Homo sapiens: one gene and its partners. The protein of the gene in region 1 purifies or fractionates together with the protein of each later gene. This does not show direct contact. Each region holds a gene or a part of one and is shown in the gene's direction. Other genes may lie near its edges.

Evidence for each region.
Region 2: the proteins of ALDH16A1 (region 1) and PRR14L purify together in Homo sapiens (affinity purification with mass spectrometry; one large-scale study listed by BioGRID and IntAct). This does not show direct contact.
Region 3: the proteins of ALDH16A1 (region 1) and MARF1 purify together in Homo sapiens (affinity purification with mass spectrometry; one large-scale study listed by BioGRID and IntAct). This does not show direct contact.
Region 4: the proteins of ALDH16A1 (region 1) and HACD3 fractionate together in Homo sapiens (co-fractionation; one large-scale study listed by BioGRID). This does not show direct contact.

What each region holds. Positions count from the first base shown.
Region 1 is NC_000019.10:49,455,218-49,460,551, forward strand, and holds part of ALDH16A1 (aldehyde dehydrogenase family 16 member A1), read left to right. Parts: intron 1-1,598; exon of another isoform or gene 1,599-1,706; coding exon of another isoform or gene 1,707-1,709; intron 1,710-3,268; coding exon 3,269-3,371; intron 3,372-3,742; coding exon 3,743-3,869; intron 3,870-4,452; coding exon 4,453-4,631; intron 4,632-5,334.
Region 2 is NC_000022.11:31,732,217-31,736,632, reverse strand, and holds part of PRR14L (protein PRR14L), read left to right. Parts: intron 1-4,416.
Region 3 is NC_000016.10:15,632,239-15,636,654, reverse strand, and holds part of MARF1 (meiosis regulator and mRNA stability factor 1), read left to right. Parts: intron 1-312; coding exon 313-999; exon of another isoform or gene 1,000-1,149; intron 1,150-1,723; coding exon 1,724-1,898; intron 1,899-2,395; exon of another isoform or gene 2,396-2,645; intron 2,646-2,811; coding exon 2,812-3,038; intron 3,039-4,416.
Region 4 is NC_000015.10:65,554,463-65,558,878, forward strand, and holds part of HACD3 (very-long-chain (3R)-3-hydroxyacyl-CoA dehydratase 3), read left to right. Parts: intron 1-424; coding exon 425-498; intron 499-2,276; coding exon 2,277-2,441; intron 2,442-4,217; coding exon 4,218-4,269; intron 4,270-4,416. UniProt on the Homo sapiens protein: Catalyzes the third of the four reactions of the long-chain fatty acids elongation cycle. This endoplasmic reticulum-bound enzymatic process, allows the addition of two carbons to the chain of long- and very long-chain fatty acids/VLCFAs per cycle.

The sequences.
Region 1 (5,334 bases):
CCAGCCTGGCCAAGATGGTGAAACCCATCTCTACTAAAAATACAAAAAATTAGCTGGGCGTGGTGGCAGGCACCTGTAATCCCAGCTACTTGGGAGGCTGGGGCAGGAGAATCGCTTGAACCCAGGAGGTGGAGATTGCAGTGAGCCGAGACCACGCCACTGCACTCCAGCCTGGGCAACAAGAGCAAAACTCCATCTCAAAAAAAAAAAAAAAAAAAAAAGGAAACAGAAAACAAAAGATTAGCCGAGGATGGCAGCACACACCTGTAGTCCCAGCTACCCGGGAGGCTGAGGTGGGAGGATCACCTGAGCCTGGGAGGTGCAGTGATCATACCACTGAACTCCAGCCTGGGTGACAGAATAAGACCCTGTCCCCCCTGAAAAAAAAAGAAGTTGAGGCCAGGCAAGTGGCTCACACCTGTAATCCCAGCAGTTTGGGAGACCGAGGCAGGAGGATCACTCGCACCTAGGAGTTTGAGACCAGCCTGGGCAACATGGTGAGGCCCTATCTCTATTAATATAAAAATAAAACATAAAAAGTGAAGTTGAGACTTGGACTTGAGTCCTTGCATTTCAGACCCGTGGTCTTGCCTACACCAGCAAAGTTCTCAACCGTACAGTCTCTGGGCCAGACTCAACCAACAAACATGTTTTCTTTGGCGTGAACTTTATTTTTTTTTTATGTGAAATGCTGGACAATTGATTCCATGTAAACATCCGGGAGGTCCTCTTGAAAATAAAATTCCAAAATGTGTCAACATTTGGCTCAACTTCCCTGACAAAAGTCATCTGGGACCAATAGCTCCTGTCTTTTCCATGAATCGTTAAGCTCCTCTTCTCATCCAGGCCCTCTTCTCAGGCCTCCTGGAACCCTCTGGACATTCTTTTGGAATTTTGTTTTTCTTTTGGGGGGAAGCTTTCCAACTTGCACAGAATAATTAGCATTTATTTTGAACTCCTGTTTACCCATCACTGTGCCTCAACCATCATCAACATTTATCCCAGCGCTGTTTCCTTCTGTATTTTCTTTGGAGTAATTTAAACAAATCCTGGATGTCACAGTATTTTCCTATAAATATTTGAATCCTTTCTTCTAACAGATAAGGGCTCATTTTGTTACAAAACTACCATGGTCTGTTACCACACTTAACATTAAGTCATTCTTTTTGTTTTTTGTTTGTTTGTTTGAGACAGGATCTTACTCTGTCGCCCAGGCTAGCATTCAGTAGCGTTCATAGCTCACTGCAGCCTGAAACTCCTGGACCCAAGCAATCCTCCCACCCCAGCCTCCTGACTAGCTGAGACTACAAGTGTGCATCATCATGACTGGCAAATTTTTTACTTTTATTTTTGTAGAGATGGGGTCTTGCTGTGTAGGTCCAGACTAGTCTCAAACTCCTCAGCTCAAGCAATCCTCCCGTCTCAGCGTGGGAAAGTGCAGGGATTACAGATGTGAGCTACCATGCCCGGCCAACAATCATTCTTTAATGTCATCTGATGCCCAGTTCATGTTCAAATATCCCTGACTTTCTCACAGATGTCTCTCTCCCTGTGGGCGTTTGAGTTTGGAACTTCTAAGTAACTTTTTTGCTTTAAAGAGAAAGGAGAAGCCAGGCACAGTGGCTCATGCTTGTAATCCCAGCACTTTGGGAGGCCGAGGCGAGTGGATCACCTGAGGCCAGGAGTTCGAGACCAGCCTGGCCAACATGGTAAAAACCCATCTCTACTAGAAATATATAAATTAGCTGGGCATGGTGGCGGCCGCCTGTAATCCCAGCTACTTGGGAGGCTGAGGTAGGAGAATCACGTGAACCCAGGAGGCGGAGGTTGCAGTGAGCTGAGATCGCACCATTGCACTCCAGCCTGGGAGACAAGAGCAAGACTCCATCTCAAAAAAAAAAAAGAAAGAAGGGCCAGTAAGAGAAAAATCAGGAATATGTGACATCAGAGATGCTAGGGGAGTCTGTAGAAGGAGCAAGTGAGCAGTGTGCTTTGGATTTAGCATCAGGGAAGACGTGACCAGGATGAGAAAGAAATATGGAGGAGAAGTCCGGGCGCAGTGGCTCACGCCTGTAATCTCAGCACTTTGGGAGGCCGAGGCGGGCGGATCACGAGGTCAGGAGATCAAGACCATCCTGGCTAACACAGTGAAACCCCATCTCTACTAAAAATACAAAAAAATTAGCCAGGCGTGGTGGCAGGCGCATGTAGTCCCAGCTACTCGGGAGCCTGAGGCAGGAGAATGGCGTGAATCCAGGAGGCGGACCTTGCAGTGAGCAGAGATCGCGCCACTGCACTCCAGCCTGGGTGACAGAGCAAGACTCTGTCTCAAACAAAAAAAAAAAAAAGAAAGAAAGAAATATGGAGGAGATGTGGTGAGTGAGATGTGGTAAAAAAATTTTTTTTCTTTGAGACAGAGCCTTGCTCTGTTACTCAGGCTGGAGTGCAGTGGCGTGATCTTGGCTTACTACAGCCTCTACCTCCTGGGCTCAAGTGATCCTCCCACCTCAGACTCCCAGGTAGCTGGGACTACAGGCACTCACCACCACACCCGGCTAACTTTTTGTATTTTTTGTAGAGATGAGCTTTCACCATGTTGCCCAGGCTGGTCTTGAATGCCTAGGCTCAGACCACCTCGGCCTCCCAAAGTGGACTCCAAATAGGTGCCACTGTTGTGGCACCAGCCCAAGGACTCAGTTGAGACCCTAATTGAATGAATTAAAGATGTTGACACATCCATAATCCCAGCACTTTGGGAGGCCAAGGCGTGCAGATCACTTGAGGTCAGGAGTTCAAGACCAGCCTGACCAACATGGTGAAACCCCGTCTCTACTAAAAATACAAAAACAAAACTAGCCGCATGTGGTGGCGGGCGCCTGTAGTCCCAGCTACTCAGGAGATTGAGGCGGGAGAATAGCGTGAACCCAGGAGGCGGAGCTTGCAGTGAGCTGAGATCATGCCACTGCACTCCAGCCTGGGTGACAGAGCAAGACTCAGTCTCAAAAAAAAAAAATGAAAAAATGTTCTAGAACTAGAGTGGTGATGGTTACACAACACTGTAAATGCACAGAATGCCACTAAACTGCTGAACTATACACTTTGAAATGCTCTATTTTACCACAAACTTTTTTTTTAAAGCAATAGGAGGAAAAGAATTAGCTGATGGGGCAGAGGGAGACAGACGTCCCCTCCTAGAGGATTCTGGGTAGGGGTTGAACTGCCCCAGCTCCTCCCGAACCCCTTTCCAAACTGTCTCTACCTCCCCCAGGCCTGGCTGGACACCCAGGACCGGTGCTTGGGCCACTATGTGAATGGGAAGTGGTTAAAGCCTGAACACAGAAATTCAGTGCCTTGCCAGGATCCCATCACAGGTACGAGATGTCCCCCAGTCATTAGTGGAAGGGAGGTATCTGTGCCCTCTAGCCCTACCCACCAACACCCATTCCCCTTGCCTAGGGCCCTGAGGGCAGGAAACAGCTGGTGGTGGGAGATGGGCTGCGATGTCTGGTTCCTTCTGAAACCAGTCACCCTAATTATGGTTCCGGGTCTCTGTGGAGGCTTTGTGAGACTGCTGTCTGTTAAAATAGCTTCCTTGCCCTGGAGGTGATCATAGCCGTGACCCAGCAGAGAATGGGGACCAGCTTTACACTCTTGGGCTGATCCAGGCTCCGAAAATCTCAGCCCCCTCCAGATATGACATGGGCTACTCCTCCCATCTGAGTCCCCCCACTTTTCTCCCCAGGAGAGAACTTGGCCAGTTGCCTGCAGGCACAGGCCGAGGATGTGGCTGCAGCCGTGGAGGCAGCCAGGATGGCATTTAAGGGCTGGAGTGCGCACCCCGGCGTCGTCCGGGCCCAGCACCTGACCAGGTGATGCAGCTGAGGTGTGGACCCCGGGAGGCGGGGAACCCCAGCATCCACTCGAGACCATGGGAACAAAGGCTATTTCCCAAGATCCCACTGAATTAATTTGCAGCTAAGGCTCAGATTCCCAGTATGTGCTGGAGGCAGTCGTGGCTGAAACATGCATCCGTTGTCCACTATTCACTGGGACTAGAAGCCACAAAGCCTCTATTTCCCAGGACATTCTTGGAGTGCATTGGGGCTCAGTTCACTGGGGCTGGTGAAGCCCCTAAATCCATTTCCTAGCCGCTTGCGGGGAAGCTAGAGACAAAAATTCCATTTCCCAAAACGCAATTGAGGTTAGAAGCTAAGACTCAATTTCCCAAAAGCTTCAGGGATTTCCGGCGGCCAAGACCTTTACACAGCATCCTCAGGGTTTGTGTTTCCATGACTATAATTCTCATAAATCTTCACTGCCCTCTGCCCCAGGTAAATGGTGGGGATGCCTCAGGGGCTCATGGGGATTGTAGTCCAGGTATATAGGAGCAGCCCAGGACTCTGCAAGGCTGAGGGCCGTTGGAAAATGAGCACCCTCTTGCTTTCTCGACAGGCTGGCCGAGGTGATCCAGAAGCACCAGCGGCTGCTGTGGACCCTGGAATCCCTGGTGACTGGGCGGGCTGTTCGAGAGGTTCGAGACGGGGACGTCCAGCTGGCCCAGCAGCTGCTCCACTACCATGCAATCCAGGCATCCACCCAGGAGGAGGCACTGGCAGGCTGGGAGCCCATGGGTGAGACCCTGGAGTCCCTAGCCCTATCCTCCCACATGACTCAGCAGTGCTAGCTCCAGTCCCCTCATTCTTTTTCTTTTAGACAGAGTTTCGCTCTTGTCGCCCAGGCCGGAGTGCAGTGGCGCAATCTTGGCTCACTATAACCTCCGCCTCCCGGGTTCAAGTGATTCTCCTGCCTCAGCCTCCTGAGTAGCTGGAATTACAGGCACCCACCACCACACCTGGCTAATTGTTATATTTTTATTAGAGAAGAGGGGTCTCATCATGTTGGTCAGGCTGGTCTCAAACTCCTAACCTCAGATGATTCACCTGCCTTGGCATCCCAAAGTGCTGGGATTACAGGCATGAGCCACCGTGCCCGGTCCCCTCATTCTTTTTCTTTTGTTTTTGTTTTTGTTTTTTTCTTTTTCAGACAGGGTCTTTCTCTGTCACCCTGGCTGGAGTACAGTGGTGCAATTATAGCTCACTGATACCTCGACCTCCTGGGCTCAAAATCCTCCCACCTCAGCCTCCCAAGTAACTGGGACTACGACCATGCACCACCACACCTGACTAGTTTTTGTTTTTGTTTTTTTTTTTTTTGAGATGGAGTTTCGCTCTTTGTTGCCCAGGCTGGAGTGCAGTGGTGCGATCTCGGCTCACTGGAACCTCCGCCTCCCGTGTTCAAGTGATTCTCCTGCCTCAGCCTCCCGAGTAGCTGGGA
Region 2 (4,416 bases), on another chromosome or scaffold:
GAGGGCTGTGGTTTGCCAACCCCTGCTCTAGACCCACCATCAGGTTCATATGTTCTTTGGGCTGCCTAGGCTAGGCTCCCATCCCGCTCTTGATACATATATCTTTTCTTTACACAGGATAAAGGGCAGTTAATTGTTGTTAGTGGGCTTCATACAGTGACTATGATTAGGAATGAATGAAGCATTAAGTAACATTTGAACATGATATTTGAGTTTACACTGTGATGCCTTTTTTTTTTTTTTTTTGAGACAGAGTTTCGCTCTTATTGCCCAGGCTGGAGTGCAATGGTGCGATCTCAGCTCACTGCAACCTCCACCTCCTGGGTTCAAGCAATTCTCCTGCTTCAGCCTCCCGAGTAGCTGGGATTACAGGCATGTGCCTCCACACCCGGCTAATTTTTTTTTTTTTTTTTTGAGATGGAGTCTCGTTCTATTGCCCAGGCTGGAGTGCAGTGGCGCAATCTCAGCTCACTGCAAGCTCCGCCTCCCAGGTTCACGCCATTCTCCTGCCTCAGCCTCCTGAGTAGCTGGGACTACAGGCATGCACCACCACACTTGGCTAATTTTTTTTTTTTTTTTTGAGATGGAGTCTTGCTCTGTTGCCCAGGCTGGAGTGCAGTGGCACAATCTCAGCTCACTGCAAGCTCCGCCTTCCGGGTTCACGCCATTCTCCTGCCTCAGCCTCCTGAGTAGCTGGGACTACAGGTGCCTGCCACCATGCCCGGCTAATTTTTTGGTATTTTTTAAATAGAGACAGGGTTTCACCATGTTGGTCAGGCTGGTCTCGAACTCCCGACCTCAGGTGATCCGCCCACCTCAGCTTCCCAAAGTGCTGGGATTACAGGGTGAGCCACTGCGCCCGGCCAATGCCCTATCTTTTAAAAATACAGTTAAATAGGTAAAAGGCTAAGGATCCCAGAGTTCCTATTGTGTTACTTCTTGATGTGGTGGGCTGAGTCTAACAAGAAAAGTTTCTTTTTTTTTTTTTTTCCAATTTAGGGACCTGCCACTTCAGGAGAGAAAAGTTTTTTAATGTAATGTTTGATATAAAAGCATGCGTAATACACATAAAGTATAATGAACACACACATGTATATATGTGTTTATATATGCATACATATACATACACATGCTTACATAACAATCAACCTAAGAACTAGATTACTATCTCAGTGTTCTTTTTTTTTTTTTTGAGACAGATTCTTGCTCTGTCACCCAGGCTGGAGTGCAATGGCACGATCTCAGTTCACTGCAAGCTCCACCTCCCAGGTTCATGCCATTCTCCTGCCTCAGCCTCCCTAGTAGCTGGGACTACAGGCGCCCGCCATGACGCCTGGCTAAATTTTTGTATTTTTTTAGTAGAGACGGGGTTTCACCGTGTTAGCCAGGATGGTCTCGATCTCCTGACTTCGTGATCCGCCCACCTCGGCCTCCCAAAGTGCTGGGATTACAGGCGCAAGCCACCGCGCCCCGCCACCCTGTTCTTTTTTAAAATCATTCCTTTTCTCCCTCCCAGCTCCACCAGTGTATATTCCATTTTGAATTGTATAAAGCAGAATGAAATTTAATTGATATAAATGTTAACATTTTGTACTCAGTTTCAAAAAGTGATCTCCACAATTGAAAAGAAACAGAAATACTTACGGGGAAAGGGGAAACGGAAGACCTGCAGGTTTTAGCAGGTCAATTAGAATTGACTTTGTTCCAGGAAAAGCCAATTTGCTCTTAATATCATTAAGGGAAATGTGTTATCTGGACTGAGAAGTGGTGGTCATGCTCTGTTGTGTGCTGGTTAGGCCACAGCTAGAGTATTATACTTTCCTGTTGTTGTCATGTGTGTGAGAGGTATAGAAAACCAGGAATGCATTCATGGATAAGTATTCACACTAATGACACAACCTGAAAATATGCATCTGGAGGCCAGGTCATTGGGTGTGTAACTTGTGAAAGAGAACAGTCAAGAGACGTGAGAGAAGCCTTCAGCAATTTAGAGGTCATTCAGCAGAAGTGGTCCTGTGGGGCACAGTTAGGCCAGTGGAAGATGTGGGGCAGCAGCAACAGCTCCTAATCACTCTCAGGTCACAGGACCCTTTGGAAATCTGAACACTGCAGACCTTTCAGAAAAGCAGACATACCACTTGCATACCATTTCAGATTTGCAAACCCCAGGCATCCCCTGATCTCAATTTATAAGAGCTCTTGCTATATTGACAAAATATCCCACAGTCAAAAGACAGCTGACAAATTGAGAGAACATATTTGCAATGTATATCAGAGATAAAGGGTCTATATCTGTAATACATGAAGAACTCTTGAATTGAGGAATGAAGAACCAAACCCAATAGAAAAATGATAAGACTTGGGCTAGGTGTGGTGGCTCACACCTGTAATCTCAGCACTTTGGGAGGCTGAGGCGGGAGGATGATGAGGTCAAGAGATTGAGACCATCCTGGCCAACATGGTGAAACCCCATCTTTACTAAAAATGCAGAAATCAGCTGGGTATGGTGGTGCATGCCTTTAGTCCCAGCTATTCGGGAGGATGAGGCAGGAGAATTGCTTGAAACTGGGAGGCAGAGGTTGTAGTGAGCCGAGATTGTGCCACTGCACTCCAGCCTGGCGACAGAGTGAGACTCCCTTTCAAAAAAAGAAAAAGAAAAAAATGGGAAGACTTGATAATGAACTGTGTGTGTGTGTGTTTGTGTGGTGTATGTGTGTGTGTGTGTGTGGTGGTGGTGGTTAAACATAAGAGATGGTCAGCCTCGTGTAATTAGAGAAATGCAAAGTTAACCAGAGATACCACTTTTTTCCCTTTGATTTAAGGGTGTCGCTTTTTGACTATCAGATGGGTGAAAATGAAAATGTATGACAACGTATCTGGTTCAAGCAAGGCTATGAGGAAACAGACATTCTAATACATTGCTGGTGGGAATGCAAACTGATACAACCTTTCTGAGGAGCAGTTTGGCAACATTTAACAAAACTATTGGTGCCTCGACCTGTTCACCGAACACTTTAAGGAAACCTGCCTTAAAAGATAGACTTCTAGGCCTGTAATCCTAGCGCTTCGGGGGGCCGAGGCGGGTGGATCACCTGAGATCAGGAGTTCGAGACCAGCCTGGGCAACATGGTGAAAGCCTGTCTCTACTAAAAATACAGAAATCAGCTGGGCGCAGTGATGCATGGCCGTAATCCAAACTACTTGGGAGGCTGAGGCGGGAGAATCGCTTGAACCCCAAAGGCGGAGGTTGCAGTGAGCCAAGATGGCACCACTGCACTCCAGCCTGAGTGACAGAGCGAGACTCCGTCTCAAAAAAAAAAAAAAAAAAAAAAAACAGTGGCCAGGCGCGGTGGCTCACACCTGTGATCCCAGCACTTGCGAGTACGAAATGGGTGGATTGCCTGAGGTCTGAGGTCAGGAGTTCGAGACCAGCCTGGCCAACCTGGTGAAACCCCCATCGCTACTAAAAATACAAAAAATTAGCCGGGCGTGTGGCGGTCGCCTGTAATCCCAGCTACTCGGGAGGTTGAGGCAGGAGAATAGTTTGAACCCAGAAGAAAGGGTTGTAGTGAGCCGAGATTGCACCATTGTCACTCCAGCCTGGGTGACAAGAGCAAAACTCTGTCTCAAAAAAAAAAAAAAAAGATACACTTCTAGCAGTATAACAATACTTAATACACAAGGTTGTTCTTTTCAGCAGTTTTTAATTGCAAAATATTGGAAACAACCTAAATGCCCATATATAGGAGAGAGATTGAATACATTATGGCATAAGGTATTTACATACATGGAGTATTATCCAGCTATAATAACAAGGAAGATCTCTATATACTGATATGGAGTGATTTCCAGGTGTGTCAGGGGTCCCCAAAACCAGCAGGTTTTCAGAGTTGCTGAAACTCACAGGACTCAGCATTTAGTTGTTCTCACAGCTACAGTTTATTGCAGTGAAAGGATACAAAGAAAATCAGCAAAAGGGAAGCAGGCATAGACCAAAGTCCAGAGGAAATCCAGTGCAAGCTTCCAAGAGTCCTTTCCTAGTGGAGTCATACACACTTAACCTCCTTCAGGAACAAATTGTGACAACACGTATGAAATATTGTCTACCATGGAAGTTTGTTAGTGGGTCAGTGCTCAGGGATTTTACTGGGGACTGGTTGCATGGACATCCTCTGCCTGGCACATAGCAAAATTTCCAACTCCTAGAAGGAAAGCAGGTGTTTAGCATAAACCACGTTATAGTGTAGGCACAGTGAGACACTCCTGTTTAGGGAATGGTGGAAACTCCCAAACTCTAGTTCCCAGATGCTAGCTAAGGCTGACCCTGCAGGTAGACCTTTCTAAGGACAGCAGTCAGGCCTGCTCTGTTGACTCACTTCTGTAAACTAAGATATGCTGTTAAGTAAAAAATGCAAA
Region 3 (4,416 bases), on another chromosome or scaffold:
GAAATTACCAAAAGGAAGTTACTGAGGCATGGTGGCTGCTAAAGATGTAAACAGGCCCTCCCACCCCAGTCTGTTTCAATTCAGGAAGAATGTAGTCTTAATTTTAGTTGTGTGTTCCAGTGTTCATGTCCTGCAGACCTCTCTGAAGAATGTTCCTGGTTTTAACTAGCTGTGATTCCATTTTGTTCAGTTATGATTTAGTGATGTAACAGAATTGAACACTATTTCTGTTTGTGCATGCAGTAAGATATGAGTAACCAAAAAACCACGGACCTCATAAAATTAATTTATGTTCTGATTTTCTTTTCTCAGAAAGAGTACATGGAGAACAAGAAAGTTGCTGTGGAACTAAAGGATGTACCATCACCCCTTCATGCTGGCTCTAAGCTTTTTCCAGCAGTCCCACTTCCTGATATTCGTTCTCTTCAGCAGCCTAAAATACAGCTTTCTTCTGTCCCCAAAGTAAGCTGCTGTGCTCATTGCCCTAATGAACCCTCCACTTCGCCAATGCGTTTTGGTGGTGGTGGTGGCGGTAGCGGAGGTACCAGTAGCTTGATTCACCCGGGCGCACTGTTAGACTCGCAAAGCACCAGGACAATCACGTGTCAGGTAGGGTCAGGGTTTGCTTTCCAGTCTGCATCTTCACTCCAGAATGCCTCAGCTAGGAACAATTTGGCAGGCATTGCAAGTGACTTTCCCAGCATGTGTCTAGAGAGTAACCTGTCTTCCTGCAAACACCTGCCCTGTTGTGGAAAACTCCACTTCCAGTCATGTCATGGTAATGTGCACAAGCTGCATCAGTTTCCGAGTCTGCAGGGCTGCACCTCCGCTGGCTATTTCCCCTGTTCTGATTTCACAAGCGGGGCTCCAGGGCATTTGGAAGAGCACATTTCACAGTCGGAGCTAACGCCTCACTTGTGCACCAACTCTTTGCACCTTAATGTGGTACCTCCGGTTTGTTTAAAGGGCTCACTTTACTGCGAAGACTGTCTAAACAAGGTTCGTATCTTTTTATTTCTTAAGTTGGGTGCAGCTGAGGATTGAGGAATGACTTTTGAAGTGGATTTATCTTGAAAAGTATTATACATGGGGTTGAAGATTCTCCCATGGTATAGGGGAATCTCCCCATCAGCATAATTTTTGCTGGTTCTGAAAGAAACAAAGGGTAAGATGGGAGATCATTCAAAAAAGTAGAGAGTCATTATTTTTGTAGTTTATACTTTTAGAGCCTCTTGTTGCAAACAAGAGGTTGGCAAAGCCTTCGTGTTCTATGTTTAAAGGCTAAAGCACGATGGATTTTTTATAACTTACATTCAGCTTACACATGGGCCCATTCATGTAAGGTAGATAACTGCATGTTGTCTTTTTGCAATAATGTGGGAAACCTGAAGCTTGGCCTCAGTCACATTGGTGTTCAAGTGAGACTTTGCTACCCTTTATGTAAAATATGTGTGAGGTCTTCGTTGCAGCAGACTCATGCCCCAGAATGTAAAGATCTGACCACGTGAATATCTTTCTTGATCATGTCAAGTCACTTCTGGAAATGAATTTATGAACTGATAGCTAATGGTTCTTGGAAAGATTATTTGAAAGTCCTTTTTATTAGAGGCTAGCAAGTGGAAAGGTAAAACACTTAGAGTGTATTTTCAGTTGTTGTATATAACTCCAGCTTCTGAAATGATGTATCTGACACCTCCTCCTTTTTAAAAAAAATTTAAAACAGCCAGCAAGAAATAGCATAATCGATGCGGCTAAAGTCTGGCCAAATATACCACCTCCAAATACTCAACCTGCACCTCTTGCTGTCCCTCTGTGTAATGGCTGTGGAACCAAAGGAACAGGGAAGGAGACCACGTTGTTATTGGCGACCAGTCTAGGCAAAGCTGCTTCAAAATTTGGTAAATGACAGTATGGCATAAAATGTGCATATTTAAATAGCTTTCAATATCTCATACTAACATTGCATTTAATCACCTTTGAAGGATTCCTTATGGTTCTAAAGCTACTGTGTATGTGAGTCTCCAATTCCATATCTTGGTAGAAATCTTTTTATTATTATGGACCAGGAAGTCATTTGCCCTTTATGTTGGGCCGAGGCTATACACAGAAGCTGTGTATAGAAAAATTGGTAGTATATCAGGAGAAATAAAAGTGCTGGAAAAGACTTGGTGTCACCTTAGGTTGGAAATCACACTTGTTGATGGTATACTCCCTAGAAGTGCTTAGAACAATTTACTAATGGCTGATTAAAAACAGTATTTGAAAACCAAAGAGTTCTCAGTTAAAATAATTTCCCTAAAAAGTAGTTAATGCGACGTTTTGAAAACATTTTTAAAATATTAAATCAGATGTTAATGCAGCGTTAACTCAAAATCAACGACAGTAACAGCTTCACCCTTTGTCAGCTCCTCAGTGTTGGTTACTACCAAGTAGGTAGATAAGTGTGGGCTAAGCTTGAAAGTCGGGTCCTGGAGCTGCAGTATCCGGTCAGTTAGTGTGCTTGTGTTCAGAGAAGCATCACTGCTTAATGTCAGAGTGGCTCATGCTTGGAGGTGGATTTATTGTGGGCTTAAAGTTACTTGACTTTTAGATTTGTCTTCTCCTGAAAAACAGAAATAATCTCTTAGAGTGATACTTTTTGACAGCTTGATTGCTTATTAGGTCAACCAGTGAGGTTGGTAGCCTTAAAACTTGGCATTCATTAATAATTTAGTTTTTCTACCACTGAGAATGATAGGTAGTTTATTATCTTATTGTAACTTGCCATTTATTTTCCACTACAAGTAATTGAAAATGTTAACATTTCTTAAGGGTCACCAGAAGTTGCAGTAGCTGGACAGGTGCTAGAAAACTTACCCCCCATTGGAGTTTTTTGGGATATTGAAAACTGCTCCGTTCCCTCTGGCCGGTCAGCAACTGCTGTTGTGCAAAGAATCCGTGAGAAGTTTTTTAAAGGCCACAGAGAAGCAGAATTCATCTGTGTATGTGACATCAGTAAAGAAAACAAGGAAGTTATTCAAGAGCTGAATAATTGCCAGGTAAAAAAAAAAAATTTAATAATTTTAATCTACAGTAGAGGAATAAGCAGATATTTGTTTGTTTGTTTGTTTTGAGACAGAGTCTAAGTGTCACCCAGGCTGGAGTGCAGTGACGCATTCATGGCTCCCTGCAGCCTCGAACCCTGGGACCCCAGTGATCCTCCCACCTCAGCCTCCCAACTAGCCAGGATCACAGATGCACGCCATCATGCTCGGCTCATTTTTTATTTTTTGTAGAGACGAGGTCTCCCTATGTTCCAACCAGAAACAGAAACTAAGAACCCATGACTGTATTCTGTCCCTTGGACACCCCTGGATGGCTTTCAGGATCCAGGGTTAGGTGGTGGAGGCTTGTCTCAAACTCCTGGGATCAAGCAGTCCTCTTGCCTTGGCCTCTAAAAGTGCTGTACGTGTGTGTGTGTGTGTGTGTGTGTGTGTGTGGTGTTTTTTTTTTTTTTAGAATTCTGATTGAAAATTTGTTTAATGATATTGCATTTGTGCCAAGTTTTCAAATAAAATAAATTAGCAAAAGATCACTTCCAAAGTACTAGAAATAATTTAATCATTCTTTCAGTTATGCTCCCTAATTTATATTTTAGTTCTATACTGGTATAATGGTTATATATGTATTATTTCCTTTGATTTTCATTACTGCTCTTTGAACCAGGCACGTAGAATATATAATTCACAATTTACAAATTAAACTAAGGCCCTGAGAGGTGAAGAAACTTGTTTAAGATCACTTGGCCAGGAAGAGCAAAGATCCAAATCTAGATTTGTCTGACCCCCAGAGTCTGCTTTTAAGCTGAAACTAGAATTTGGGTCTTTTGACTCTTAGATAATTAATTATATTGATAGTCCATATTGCTTGTCTAAAATGATATACCCATGTTCTTTACAAAAACCAGCAAGTTATTATTGTGTATTGCAGGTGCCTGAGGCAACTTTCTCAAAATAAACCTTTCCTTCCTTTGGGGACTTATATGCGAGCCTGATAGTTTTAACAGAAATAAATGCATTTTAGCTCCCTTAGGGGATATCCTCCCTCCTCTCTCTACCACCTCACCCCAGATCCTGAAAGCCATCCAGGGGTGTCCAAGGGAGAGAATACAATCATGGATTCTCAGTTTCTGTTTCTGGTTGGGCTAGTAAAGCACCTTCCTTATCTCTCTTTTCTGCTTATTAGTAGGGACGGAAACTAAAAACTATGGCTTCCAGCTGCTAAAAGCCCAAAACAAAACAAAACAGAAAACAACAACAAAAGGCAGATTGCACAAGCTTGCATGGGTAGCATGGACAGTTGACATAAAACACAGCCTTAAATCTTATTTTAGTCATTTGTCTGATCTTTACCACCTCCAAATTGTTGGCAGAAGCT
Region 4 (4,416 bases), on another chromosome or scaffold:
GCCTTTTGGCTACAATCAAGTATGATATTCGTGCCAGGTACAGTGGCTCATGTCTGTAATCCCAGCACTTTGGGAGGCTGAGGCGGGTGGATCACAAGGTCAGGAGATCGAGACCATCCTGGTTAACACGGTGAAACCCCGTCTCTACTAAAAATAAAAAAAATTATCTGGGCATGGTGGCGGGAGCCTGTAGTCCCAGCTACTCGGGAGGCTGAGGCAGGAGAATGGCATGAACCCGGGAGGCGGAGCTTGCAGTGAGCCGAGATCATGCCACTGCACTCCAGCCTGGGCAACAGAGCAAGACTCTGTCTCAAAAAAAAAAAAGTGTAATATTCGCATACTTGGGAAAGAACTGCACCAAGCTGGCTTTTGGATGGCCTTGCTCTGCTCAAGTTTGCAGTAACCCACATTTCTTTCTTTATAGCTCAAGGACATGGTGCCAAAGGAGACAATGTCTATGAATTTCACCTGGAGTTCTTAGACCTTGTGAAACCAGAGGTATGTTCTTTCCTTTCTCACTTCCCTTCCCATTTTAGGAAATGAATACCAGTAGTTTAGTGAAATGGGGAGCAGGGTTTGTGGAGAGAAGAAGATAAAAACCAAAGGGGAATAATAGAGTTCTTTTATTTGGAACAGAGCCCAGGTTTTAGCTGCAGAGGAATGGGAAAGTCAGAGACCCCAAGTTGAGTCAGGGCCCTGCCATTTATTAGCAGTGTGATCTTGAACAAGTCTCTTAACTTCTTCGAGTTCTGGTGTTCTCATGTGTTAAATGAAGGTCTGGACTAAGTGATCCTTCCAGCTCTGATATTCTCTGGTTTTAGTGATGGCAGAGGAATATGGCACCCATTGAGAACAGAGTTACATAGAGTGGTTGAAGCCCCCACCAGGGGTTACTTTCATGTGACTTTGCCACAGTTGCAGGTGAGAAAAATAGAAATCAGAAAGGGTGAAGGCAGCTGGCCTTCAGAAAGAATGCTGCAGATATCATCAAAACTTCCCTTCCCTTAGAGCCTGAGGAAGCTTCTCTCATAAGCAGGGAGAGAATCCAATAGATGGGGTATTTTGGCTTCTGGAATTACACTTAGCTCTGGTGGCTTGAGCTTCTTGATTTCCGTGCGCAGGTGCTCAGTTGTTTTGAGAAAGCATGAATAATAACCAGTGGTACAGTGGGCAGAGAACCTGTCATGGAGCTTCCTTTGGAGAAAAGGGACAGGACATGTAGACAAACAATGAGCTGGAATGGCCTATAAGAATTTGAGTTTAGTTGGGAAGACTCCCCAAATTGACCCCTGTGAAAAAATCTGTAACTGATCCAATACAGTTCTGATCTTGATGCAGGTGTTTCTAAAACCGGGGTCTGCTGAGCCAGGACAGTCATTTTCATGGGAGGAAAATTTATAAGCTGAGGGTAATTGGATGCAGTACCCTTGAGAGGGTGATTGGACATAGTACCTTGCATGATGTGGCTGTGGCAGGAGGTTCATGCTAGTTCCCTCCAGCCTAACCAGGAACTATTTGCCTTTCTTATCCTGATATCCTCCTGTATCATTCACTGGGGGAATCAGAGAAGGACATTATGTCCTTACCAGTTCTCCATGCCAGCCGTTGGTCTAGATCAACCTTTTTGGCACCAGGGACCAATTTTGTGGAAGGCACTTTTTCCACAGATGGTGGAATGGGGATGGTTTCAGGGTGATTCAAATGCATTACATTTGTTGTGCACTTTATTTCTGTTATTATTACATTGTAATATATAATGAATACAACTCACCATAATGTAGAATCAGTGAGAGCCCTGAGCTTGTTTTCTTGCAACTAGACAGTCCCATCTGGGGGTGATGGGAGACAGTGACAGATCATCAGGCATTATAGTCTCATAAAGAGTGAGCAACCTAGATTCCTTGCATGCACAATTCACAATAGAGTTCACGCTCCTATGTGAATCTTGTGCCAATGCTGATCTGACAGGAGGCAGGGCTTAGGCAGTAATGCAAGTGATGGAGAGCGAGTCTAAATATAGGTGAAGTTTCACTCACTTGCCCACCACTCAGCTCCTCCTGTGTGGCCCGATTCCCAACAGGCCATGGACCAGTATCAGTCCATGGCCCAGGAGTTGGAGACCCCTGGTCTAGATGTTCCCTTTGCATCAGGACTTGCAGGACCAGAGAAAGAAGGAGAATAAATATATCCTGCAGCTTCTATGTACGGCGCCCCTGGCATGGTGCTGCTTCAGGGAACAGAAGAGGGCATTCTCACATTTTCACTTTCTCTCCTAGCCTGTTTACAAACTGACCCAGAGGCAGGTAAACATTACAGTACAGAAGAAAGTGAGTCAGTGGTGGGAGAGACTCACAAAGCAGGAAAAGCGACCACTGTTTTTGGCTCCTGACTTTGATCGTTGGCTGGATGAATCTGATGCGGAAATGGAGCTCAGAGCTAAGGTTAGTAAGGATCCTAGGATCTAGCCATTGAGGACAAATCATGGGGAACCCACGTTATTCAGGCCACTTCAGATACCTCTCGGTCTGAAAGAATAGCTACAAAGTTACAAATTCATTTAAAGACCTGGTGATGTGATTTTCAAGAAGTATTGGCTATGTATTTTATAGACTTTCCTTCGGTTGAAATCTGTCTGATGTTTCTCTTACAACTAGACTAAGGTGATAGATGTTGAGGAGAAGACCACTGAAGTAAAGTGCAATTCTTATCACATCATATCAAGAGTACATACGGCCGGGCACGGTGGCTCACGCCTGTAATCCCAGCACTTTGGGAGGCCAAGGTGCGTGGATCACGAGGTCAGGAGATAGAGACCATCCTGGCTAGCACAGTGAAACCCTGTCTCTACTAAAAATACAAAAAATTAGCCGGGCGTGGTGGTGCATGCCTGTAGTCGGAGCTGCTCAGGAGGCTGAGGCAGGAGAATGGCGTGAACTCGGGAGGCGGGGCTTGCCGTGAGCCGAGATCACGCCACTGCACTCCAGCCTGGGCAACAGAGCGAGAGTCTCAAAAAAAAAAAAAAAAAGTACATACTGTCAACGTGACACATCACTGTTGATATTAACCATGGGTTAGCTGGCTTGAGGTGACGCTTATCAGGTTTCTCTACCATAAGGTTATTTTCCTCTTGGCTCTCCTTGGAAGGAAGTCACTATGTGTAGCCTACATTTAAGGAGCAGGGAGTTATGCTTCCTGTCCTTTAGATGGAGGGAGTATCTACATAATTTATTTGGAATTCTTCTGCATAGGAGAATAATTATGCATGTCTATTGTCTCCCATTTATTTATTCAATCATTTATATCATGTGAGTACATGGGTATTTATTTTATACTTTGAGTTATAATCTAATATTATTTATTTTGTTGCTCAAATTCTTCCAGCTTTGGCACTAACTGGCCTTTGGTTATGTCCTCATCCTGCCCATCTTTCATTTGGCTTTTGTATCTTTTTGAGAAAGCGCCATCATTATGGGACTGTTTTTTTTTTTTTTTTTGAGCACTTCCTTACTTTCTGGCAGTATAAGCTGCTCCAGGCTTATCTTGCATGTATGTTTCCTGCTCCAGCCCTGGAACAGCCATTTCTTCAAGCATCTCTGTTCTTATTGTGGAATAGCATTGGAAACCAAGATCTGGGTGCCGGGTATGCTCATTGCTACCAGGTTGCCATTGCCTTTAAGTTCTCTTCACTGACAGAACAAGAAAATATATGTTTGGATAGTAACCCATGCATACACATACACCTGTAAATATTTCTGTATGGATCCATCTGTATCTCTGTTAAGCTAAACGTGAGTTCATAGTGATGTTGGAAACATGATCTTAGCTTCTGGAAAAATTATACTAAAATTCTAGAAGTCTTGAAAAATAAAATAGCAGTCTACCTCCTGCCTTAAACTTCTGTTTTATTTCTCTGACTGCGACAGATCTTCTGGATGTCCTTTCCAGCTTTAAGATTCCAAGGTCACTTGTCAGTTTGGAAGCCAGCTCACTGGGTTAATTTTGTGAACAATGGATGGGCACCTGTGATGCTAATGCTGCTTAGTAAGCAGGAGTCAGGCGTTTGGCCCTATGACCTAGAATATTCTCCCAATGATGCACTGACCCCAACTGGAGGAGTTGGCTTTGAGGGAGTCAGATTACTCAGCCAGCATATGGACTTTTGCAAGCATCTGGGAATTCTAACTTGTGTTCTTGGAAAACTTTTGTCTAAATTCTAGGAAGAAGAGCGCCTAAATAAACTCCGACTGGAAAGCGAAGGCTCTCCTGAAAGTAAGTTGTGCTGCTGCCATGGTAGTTACCAGTTAACTTGTGCTAGTGTTGGAAGTATGGATAATTGTGATGTGGCAGGAGAGCTAATGATTTCATCCCGGTGAGCTGTGTGGGTGAGTTTATGAAAAAGCTTTTAGGTCCAGTGCT